Linked DNA regions of Homo sapiens: regions 1 and 2 are each linked to region 3. The links come from fine-mapping of genetic effects on gene expression. A gene starts in region 3. Each other region holds a variant in brackets. All regions are shown on one strand. Distances are from middle to middle.

The links. PIP is the estimated chance that this variant, and not a neighbour inherited with it, causes the effect.
Region 1: its variant is fine-mapped to the expression of RIOX2 in whole blood (INTERVAL, PIP 0.95).
Region 2: its variant is fine-mapped to the expression of RIOX2 in blood mononuclear cells (TOPMed, PIP above 0.99). The same link has a PIP of 0.9 or more in T cells and whole blood.

The regions. Positions count from the first base shown.
Region 1 is chr3:97,907,659-97,910,506 of GRCh38, forward strand. All of the region lies in intron 15 of CRYBG3 (crystallin beta-gamma domain containing 3), which reads left to right. Among named protein-coding and RNA genes, the nearest start is that of RIOX2, 63 kb to the right of the region's middle. RefSeq lists enhancers at 2,204-2,794, 2,795-2,848. The variant C/T (reference allele first, on the strand shown) is at 1,416.
Region 2 is chr3:98,002,416-98,004,915 of GRCh38, forward strand. The region is part of intron 7 of GABRR3 (gamma-aminobutyric acid type A receptor subunit rho3); the gene reads right to left. Among named protein-coding and RNA genes, the nearest start is that of RIOX2, 31 kb to the left of the region's middle. The variant T/C (reference allele first, on the strand shown) is at 1,083.
Region 3 is chr3:97,970,827-97,973,674 of GRCh38, forward strand. RIOX2 (ribosomal oxygenase 2) reads right to left here and starts at 1,605. Exons shown (of 10, transcript NM_153182.4): 1 at 1,555-1,605. It overlaps LOC124909398 (a long non-coding RNA gene), which reads left to right and starts at 1,827. Exons shown (of 2, transcript XR_007095976.1): 1 at 1,827-2,848. RefSeq lists an enhancer at 820-1,079 and a silencer at 1,350-1,789.

The DNA.
Region 1 (2,848 bases), 63 kb before region 3:
AGCGGTCTATCAATTTTGTTGATCCTTTCAAAAAACCAGCTCCTGGATTCATTAATTTTTTGAAGGGTGTTTTGTGTCTCTATTTCCTTCAGTTCTGCTGTGATTTTAGTTATTTCTTGCCTTCTGCTAGCTTTTGAATGTGTTTGCTCTTGCTTTTCTAGTTCTTTTAATTGTGATGTTAGGGTGTCAATTTTGGATCTTTCCTGCTTTCTCTTGTGGGCATTTAGTGCTATAAATTTCCCTCTACACACTGCTTTGAATGCGTCCCAGAGATTCTGGTATGTTGTGTCTTTGTTCCCGTTGGTTTCAAAGAACATCTTTATTTCTGCCTTCATTTTGTTATGTACCCAGTAGTCATTCAGGAGCAGGTTGTTCAGTTTCCATGTAGTTGAGAGGTTTTGAGTGAGATTCCTAATCCTGAGGTCTAGTTTGATTGCACTGTGGTCTGAGAGATAGTTTGTTATTATTTCTATTCTTTTACATTTGCTGAGGAGAGCTTTACTTCCAAGTATGTGGTCAATTTTGGAATAGGTGTGTTGTGGTGCTGAAAAAAATGTATATTCTGTTGATTTGGGGTGGAGAGTTCTGTAGATGTCTATTAGGTCCGCTTGGTGCAGAGCTGAGTTCAATTCCTGGGTATCCTTGTTGACTTTCAGTCTCGTTGATCTGTCTAATGTTGACAGTGGGGTGTTAAAGTCTCCCATTATTAATATGTGGGAGTCTAAGTCTCTTTTTAGGTCACTCAGGACTTGCTTTATGAATCTTGGTGCTCCTGTATTGGGTGCATATATATTTAGGACAGTTAGCTCTTCTTGTTGAATTGATCCCCTTACCATTATGTATTGGCCTTCTTTGTCTTTTTTGATCTTTGTTGGTTTAAAGTCTGTTTTATCAGAGACTAGGATTGCAACCCCTGCCTTTTTTTGTTTTCCATTTGCTTCATAGATCTTCCTCCATCCTTTTATTTTGAGCCTATGTGTGTCTCTGCACATGAGATGGGTTTCCTGAATACAGCACACTGATGGGTCTTGACTCTTTATCCAATTTGCCAGTCTGTGTCTTTTAATTGGAGCATTTAGTCCATTTATATTTAAAGTTAATATTGTTATGTGTGAACTTGATCCTGTCATTATGATGTTAGCTGGTTATTTTGCTCATTAGTTGATGCAGTTTCTTCCTAGTCTGGATGGTCGTTACATTTTGGCATGATTTTGCAGCGGCTGGTACTGGTTGTTCCTTTCCATGTTTAGCGCTTCCTTCAGGAGCTCTTTTAGGGCAGGCCTGGTGGTGACAAAATCTCTCAGCATATGCTTGTCTGTAAAGTATTTTATTTCTCCTTCACTTATGAAGCTTAGTTTGGCTGGATATGAAATTCTGGGTTGAAAATTCTTTTCTTTAAGAATGTTGAATATTGG[C/T]CCCCACTCCCCTCTGGCTTGTAGGGTTTCTGCCGAGAGATCCTCTGTTAGTCTGATGGGCTTCCCTTTGAGGGTAACCCGACCTTTCTCTCTGGCTGCCCTTAACATTTTTTCCTTCATTTCAACTTTGGTGAATCTGACAATTATGTGTCTTGGAGTTGCTCTTCTCAAGGAGTATCTTTGTGGCGTTCTCTGTATTTCCTGAATCTGAACGTTGGCCTGCCTTGCTAGATTGGGGAAGTTCTCCTGGATAATATCCTGCAGAGTGTTTTCCAACTTGGTTCCATTCTCCCCATCACTTTCAGGTACACCAATCAGACATAGATTTGGTCTTTTCACATAGTCCCATATTTCTTGGAGGCTTTGCTCATTTCTTTTTATTCTTTTTTCTCTAAACTTCCCTTCTCGCTTCATTTCATTCATTTCATCTTCCATCGCTGATACCCTTTCTTCCAGTTGATTGCATTGGCTCCTGAGGCTTCTGCATTCTTCACGTAGTTCTCGAGCCTTGGTTTTCAGCTCCATCAGCTCCTTTAAGCACTTCTCTGTATTGGTTATTCTAGTTATACATTCTTCTAAATTTTTTTCAAAGTTTTCAACTTCTTTGCCTTCAGTTTGAATGTCCTCCCGTAGCTCAGAGTAATTTGATCGTCTGAAGCCTTCTTCTCTCAGCTCGTCAAAGTCATTCTCCATCCAGCTTTGTTCCGTTGCTGGTGAGGAACTGCGTTCCTTTGGAGGAGGAGAGGCGCTCTGCTTTTTAGAGTTTCCAGTTTTTCTGTTCTGTTTTTTCCCCATCTTTGTGGTTTTATCTACTTTTGGTCTTTGATGATGGTGATGTACAGATGGGTTTTTGGTGTGGATGTCCTTTCTGTTTGTTAGTTTTCCTTCTAACAGACAGGACCCTCAGCTGCAGGTCTGTTGGAATACCCTGCCGTGTGAGGTGTCAGTGTGCCCCTGCCTGGGGGTGCCTCCCAGTTAGGCTGCTCAGGGGTCAGGGGTCAGGGACCCACTTGAGGAGGCAGTCTGCCCGTTCTCAGATCTCCAGCTGCGTGCTGAGAGAACCACTGCTCTCTTCAAAGCTGTCAGACAGGGACATTTAAGTCTGCAGAGGTTACTGCTGTCTTTTTGTTTGTCTGTGCCCTGCCCCCAGAGGTGGAGCCTACAGAGGCAGGCAGGCCTCCTTGAGCTGTGGTGGGCTCCACCCAGTTCGAGCTTCCTGGCTGCTTTGTTTACCTAATCAAGCCTGGGCAATGGCGGGCACCCCTCCCCCAGCCTGGCTGCCGCCTTGCAGTTTGTTCTCAGACTGCTGTGCTAGCAATCAGCGAGACTCTGTGGGCGTAGGACCCTCCGAGCCAGGTGCAGGATATAATCTCGTGGTGTACCGTTTTTTAAGCCCGCCGGAAAAGTGCAGTATTAGGGTGGGAGTGAACCGA
Region 2 (2,500 bases), 31 kb after region 3:
TTGTGGTGACATCCACACACACATTTTGTTCAGGTTTACCTCTCCCATTGACTACAAGGAAGTTTAAAGCCAAATTTTCAGACATCTACAGGACTTCTCTGAGCACCATTCTTTAATGACCACATACACATACCAGGATATATATAATACCTTATCCTTGTTTTTCTTTTTTTTCTCATACATTTCTAATTTATATTACCTTGCTTTATTTCACAATAACTATGTGCTAATCTTGTTAAATCTTTACTAAAATAAGGCAATACATGAGGAAACATGGAAATACATCTTTTCTGAATAAGTAGCAAGATTTTTTTTCTATGATAAATGCTGTTTATTTTCAAATAACATTATTCAAAACACAGGGACTATAGGTCAAAAGTTATAAAATAAAAATCATAGGTATTGCAGAGTTGGAAAACCCTTCTGCTAGTCTCAGCAGTAATTTCTTAGAAACCCAAGACGGCAAACCTATTAGATGGATCACTTAAGTACTTAGGCATTTGGCCTAAGAAATACACCTGGCCAACCCACACTGAACTGGCAGACTCTACTCTTAGAATCCTATTCTCAATGAAATACTCATTATCTTTTTCTTCCTTACCTAGTTCTAAGCTTCTAACAGTCAGTTTATATATGTTCAGGAATACCAAACAATTTTATTACCAGGAGTAATAAAATATACATCACATAGTACATTATAAAGTTAAAATATAAATTATTTTTAAGCTTCTCATTGTCTTGTATCACCTACATCACAGCCCCAATTTATTACTGTGTACCACTGAGAGTTTCAGTGATGGCTGTAGAGTACAATAACAGCTTTCTGACCTTACAACTTTATATAACTACTGTGAGGTTAAAAGAAATAAGGAAAACCTGTGAAAGAAATTCAAAAGAAAGACAGTATTAAGGTATATAGTTTTCTGTTCATTATTAACTTGAAATAAAATTAGTTAACTGCATCCTTTCTTTATTCATAATTTTCTGAAGAACAGTTGTCCTTTTTTTTTTTTTTTGGTGGGGTGGGGGCAGGGTGGAGTAACCAGGAAGTCAAACTGTGGCTCTGTCTTGTGGTTTTAGAC[T/C]AGGGGTGGTATTTTAGTTGAACCTGCAGGTCATGGGGAGTCCATTTCCCTATCAGGAAAGGTGGTGCTGCCTTGGAACGTTGTGAAGCCTTCATTTTGGGTAGTACAATAAAAAGTCTGATTCTATTTTTGATGTTTGACTGCTAAAAGCTCTCAAGCCCAACTTCTCCTTCTGCCCTACATCTGAGCAAGTTAATAAAAAGCCTAGGTCTCTTTTTGGCACCTGTGAAAAGTTCAAACCATGCATCTTGTCCTACGACAGGCAGCCTTCACCCTAGCTGCACCCCCTAGCTACCATAAAAACCCAAGCCAGTAGCCCCTTCCTGTTTTCTCAAGCCATTTTTCATTTCAGACCTGCTTGGGAGCCTGCCCATCTCTCTCTAGAAAGCCTCATTATGTAAGTAATAAATCACTTCATACCCTTTTGTCATGTGTATGGCATCATCAGTTTTGGCATCTGAACTAAATTTTGGATGGGGACGGGTACATCTGCCTCCATTAGTTTGCCATACAGTAGAAAGAAGAGGAGTTAATAACAGAGAGAAAAAGGCTAGAGAGTTGGCACCCAGGGAAATGGAGGACTGGGCCAGTATTTGGGGAGTCAGTCCCAAGACAAGAATAAAGAAGGTTTTTATACCTAGAGACAGTCACCTTCAATGGCCCTTTGAAAGTAGGCCTTAATACTCTCTATGAAAAGGATCAAAATAATGTGGATGAAAATAGGGTGATGATGACAGCTACTAACTAATATTTATTGAGCCTCTATTATATGGCAGATAACATTCTAAGGTACTTAACTATATGACATCATGTATCCTCACAACCCTATGATATAGAGAGTATTATGAAACCCATTTAAAGATGAGAAAGTTAAGGGTTAGAGAGATTAAGCAACTTGTCCAAGGTCAGGTTGCTAATAAATGATAGAGACAGGGTTTGAACTTAGGCAGTCTGTTTCTACTACTTACACATTCAGCCATTAGATTATGCTATGATAAAGAATAATTATTCAATGCATCCCTTAGGGGCAGGAGTCATTTCTTTTTTCTTTGTAAATTTATAGTGCATGATTTTGAGAATTTTGAGAAAGGGATCAGGAGGCAGAAGCCCTCATCTGCTTGTTAATATTGCCAGGTCGTGGTGATTTTTGAACAGTGGCAACGGTAGTGGTGAAGGCCAAGAAAAAAAAAAAAACACCCTGTTGTTCAGCTGTAAAATGGAAACTAAGGTCCTATAACTATATTTCTGACTCTTATAGCCAGAGTCAGATGTATAGTTTTTCTATACACCTGGGAGTGGTGGTTGTGGCTGGTAGTTGTAAGGATAGGAGTGAAGAAAACAAATCAAAAATTATTTTTGAGGAAGCTAAAATATTTAAACAGGAAACTAGTCTGAAAAAGACACTTGAGTTTGTCAGA
Region 3 (2,848 bases):
GCAACAGACAGACAGTCACTATATTTTAAAGGTACCCTAACCTCCTTTTCTATAATATTTGAGGACATGAAGACGTGAGGAAGCTCTTGAAGGAAAGGATTTGTATATCCCCGGAAACAAGCACGGTGTGGTACATAGGAGGTCCTCAAGAAATGTCTGCTGAATTTTTCACATTTTCATCTTTTGTCTGTATACAATTTTGGAGACAAACCACAAAGGCCTTACACAAAACAGTTACGGAAAAAACAGATGGCCTGTGCAGAGGGGATTATTTTTCTGATTGCAGCTGTCACTTCAGGATTCAAGAGTATCGTAAAAGCTAAAAGGCACTTTAGACATCAGTAGTTATTACTAAATCGGGGAGGGAAGTATGAATTTCTACATCCCCTGGGCAGTTTTACAGAATGTAGTTCAGAGTTACCAGCAAGGTTGTTAGCATGCAAATTTCTGGGCCCTCATCAAGCCCACTGGATTGCCACTTCTGATGGCTGAGGCCCATAATCTGCATTAACGTAATACGCTCTCTAGATGAATTTTAGGTCCACTAATGGAGGACAACAGTCAAACGCAGCTCAGTTAAACACACGGCTGTCAGAAATTATATATTGCTTGTAACAAGGTTGCCCAGACTGATCTAAAACATTTCTTTTTGGCTCAGAGATATGTTAATCAATCCAGAGGGAAAACTGGTTCTCCTATTGACCTAAAGGAGTGATCAGCAGTTATCTTTTTAGTCTGATTTTAGAGAGGAAACGGACTATACCTCAATGTATTTTCGTGACCATGAGGTTACAAAGCTTGATGTCCAGGAGGCAAAAACCAGTACCAGCAGAAGAAGCTGAGTAAATCAGGTTCCTCTGCTCAAAGATGAGCCCAGTGACATGAAACCCGAGGCACCAGATTTACAGCTAATGAGTGGCGAAATCAGATCCTCTTCCTCCCAGTCTATCCTTCCTGAAAACAGTGAATAACCTGGTCTCAGTAACCTGTTGGACAACCCAGCTGTCGGCCAATCGTTGCGGAATTATTTGCTGGTAAATGAATTGGAAGCATATGATGTAATGCAGCTGCCCTTCTCCCCACACACCTGAACTTCAGATTTCACAGCTGTAGAGCGTGTCTCTTAGGCCCGACATGACGCCCGGCGGCGCAGCCCACGTGGAAGCCGTGCTCGCACAGGCAGTTCTGCCACCACCGGGCGGAGGCCGGCACCACCCTCCTTGCTAAGCCTCCAAACTTTCCGTGCGCTCGTCACCGGTGTCGCGACCATTAGCAGGCCACGTGTGCGACTCTCTGTAACCAAGGCTTCCGCGACCCTACCCCTAGATCCGGGCCCCACCCACCCTGCCCCAGTCTCCGGGGAGGTGGGACGCCTGGGAGCGCGTCCCAGGTCCCGCAACCACAGCGCCGGCCACCGAGGCTTCTCGCCGACCGACAGGTCTCCCAGACCCGCACCCGAGCCCGGGTGCCTAAAGCAGCAGCGCGCGCCCCGCGGGATCGGGCACTACCCGGCCTGCCCCGGCGCTGGGATGCCCACGAGAGCGCCCCACTCACCCGGCACGGCCTGTTGCTCGCGGCCGCGAGCCCACTGCGTTGCGGCGCAGCGGCTGGAGGCGGGGCAGCGTGGGCACGCTCCGGGCCGTGCTCCAGCCCCCGCCCCGCCCCGCCACGCCGGCCCGCAAGTGGTGGCAGCCCGGAGGCCTGGCTACCCGGCGGTGTTCCGCGTTCACGCCCGGGCGTTTCTTTAGTCCATATGGAAGGAAATAAATGGCCTTTTTTTTCCTCTTTTTTTTTTTTTTTTTTTTTTTTTTTTTTTTTTTATGGTATGTGAGACAAGGTCTCACTCTCGCCCAGGCTGGAGTGCAGTGGTAGCGATCTTGGCTCACTGCAACCTTTACCTCCCGGGCTCAAGCGATCCTCCTGCCTCGGCCTCCCAAAGTGCTGGATTATAGGTGTGAGCCACCCACCCGGCTCTCCTTTTTTTTCTTTTAACTTGGGGCGGCAGGAGAGGATTTGAGAGAGCGTTTTGGTGCAACTCCGTTCCTTTTATGAATAGAGAAGCAGGCCTGAAGAGGAATACCAGCGGTGCAAGTTTAGGGAGTTGGTGGTCCGGGTTCTCCCATGGCTTTCTTATGGGCTGTGTGGCTACACAATGCTGATTTGTACAAGCCGAGTGTCATTTATATCATCTCGCTCCGGGAGAGAGAGTCAATCCTAGTTTTAAAAGATACTGGAAATTCGTTGCGACTATGGCTATAGAAACAGAAGAAATGCAGTTATCTGAGTCCTTTCAGCCTAACACTCCCTGCTTTGGAACATTTGGTTCCAGTCAGGAGGCACAAATGAGGGAGCAGGGAAATCAGTGGCGGGCCTGTGCCTTTCTTTGCTCTGTAGACAGCCAGAGGACCCAGAGGAAGTCGACATTTCGTTCCGTCAAGGTGACTGAGACCAGTGGCTGCTTCTAAGGATCAAGTGGCACATGAACAAATGGGAACAAAGTACACCCTTGTCTAGTATTTGTCTAAAACTAACAATAATAGCAAGTCTTGAATTGAGTTCTTCCTGGCTATAAGGCACCACGCTAGGTGTTTCAAATACTCCTCACTTCATCCTCACTACAACCTTGCAATTACCTCCATTTTACAGTTGAGGAAACTGAGTCAGGAGAGGTTAACTAACTTGCACAAGATCACACAGCTAGGAAGATGCAGAAACAAGATTAGAGCCAAACCAGTCAGTCAACTGTTGGTCTTTTTCACGTTTTACTAATACTCGTATAACTAGTAAGTTTCCTGGCAGGTTCCAGTTGGAAAAACTCGAGGGTAACATCAAATTTAGCCCTTACAGG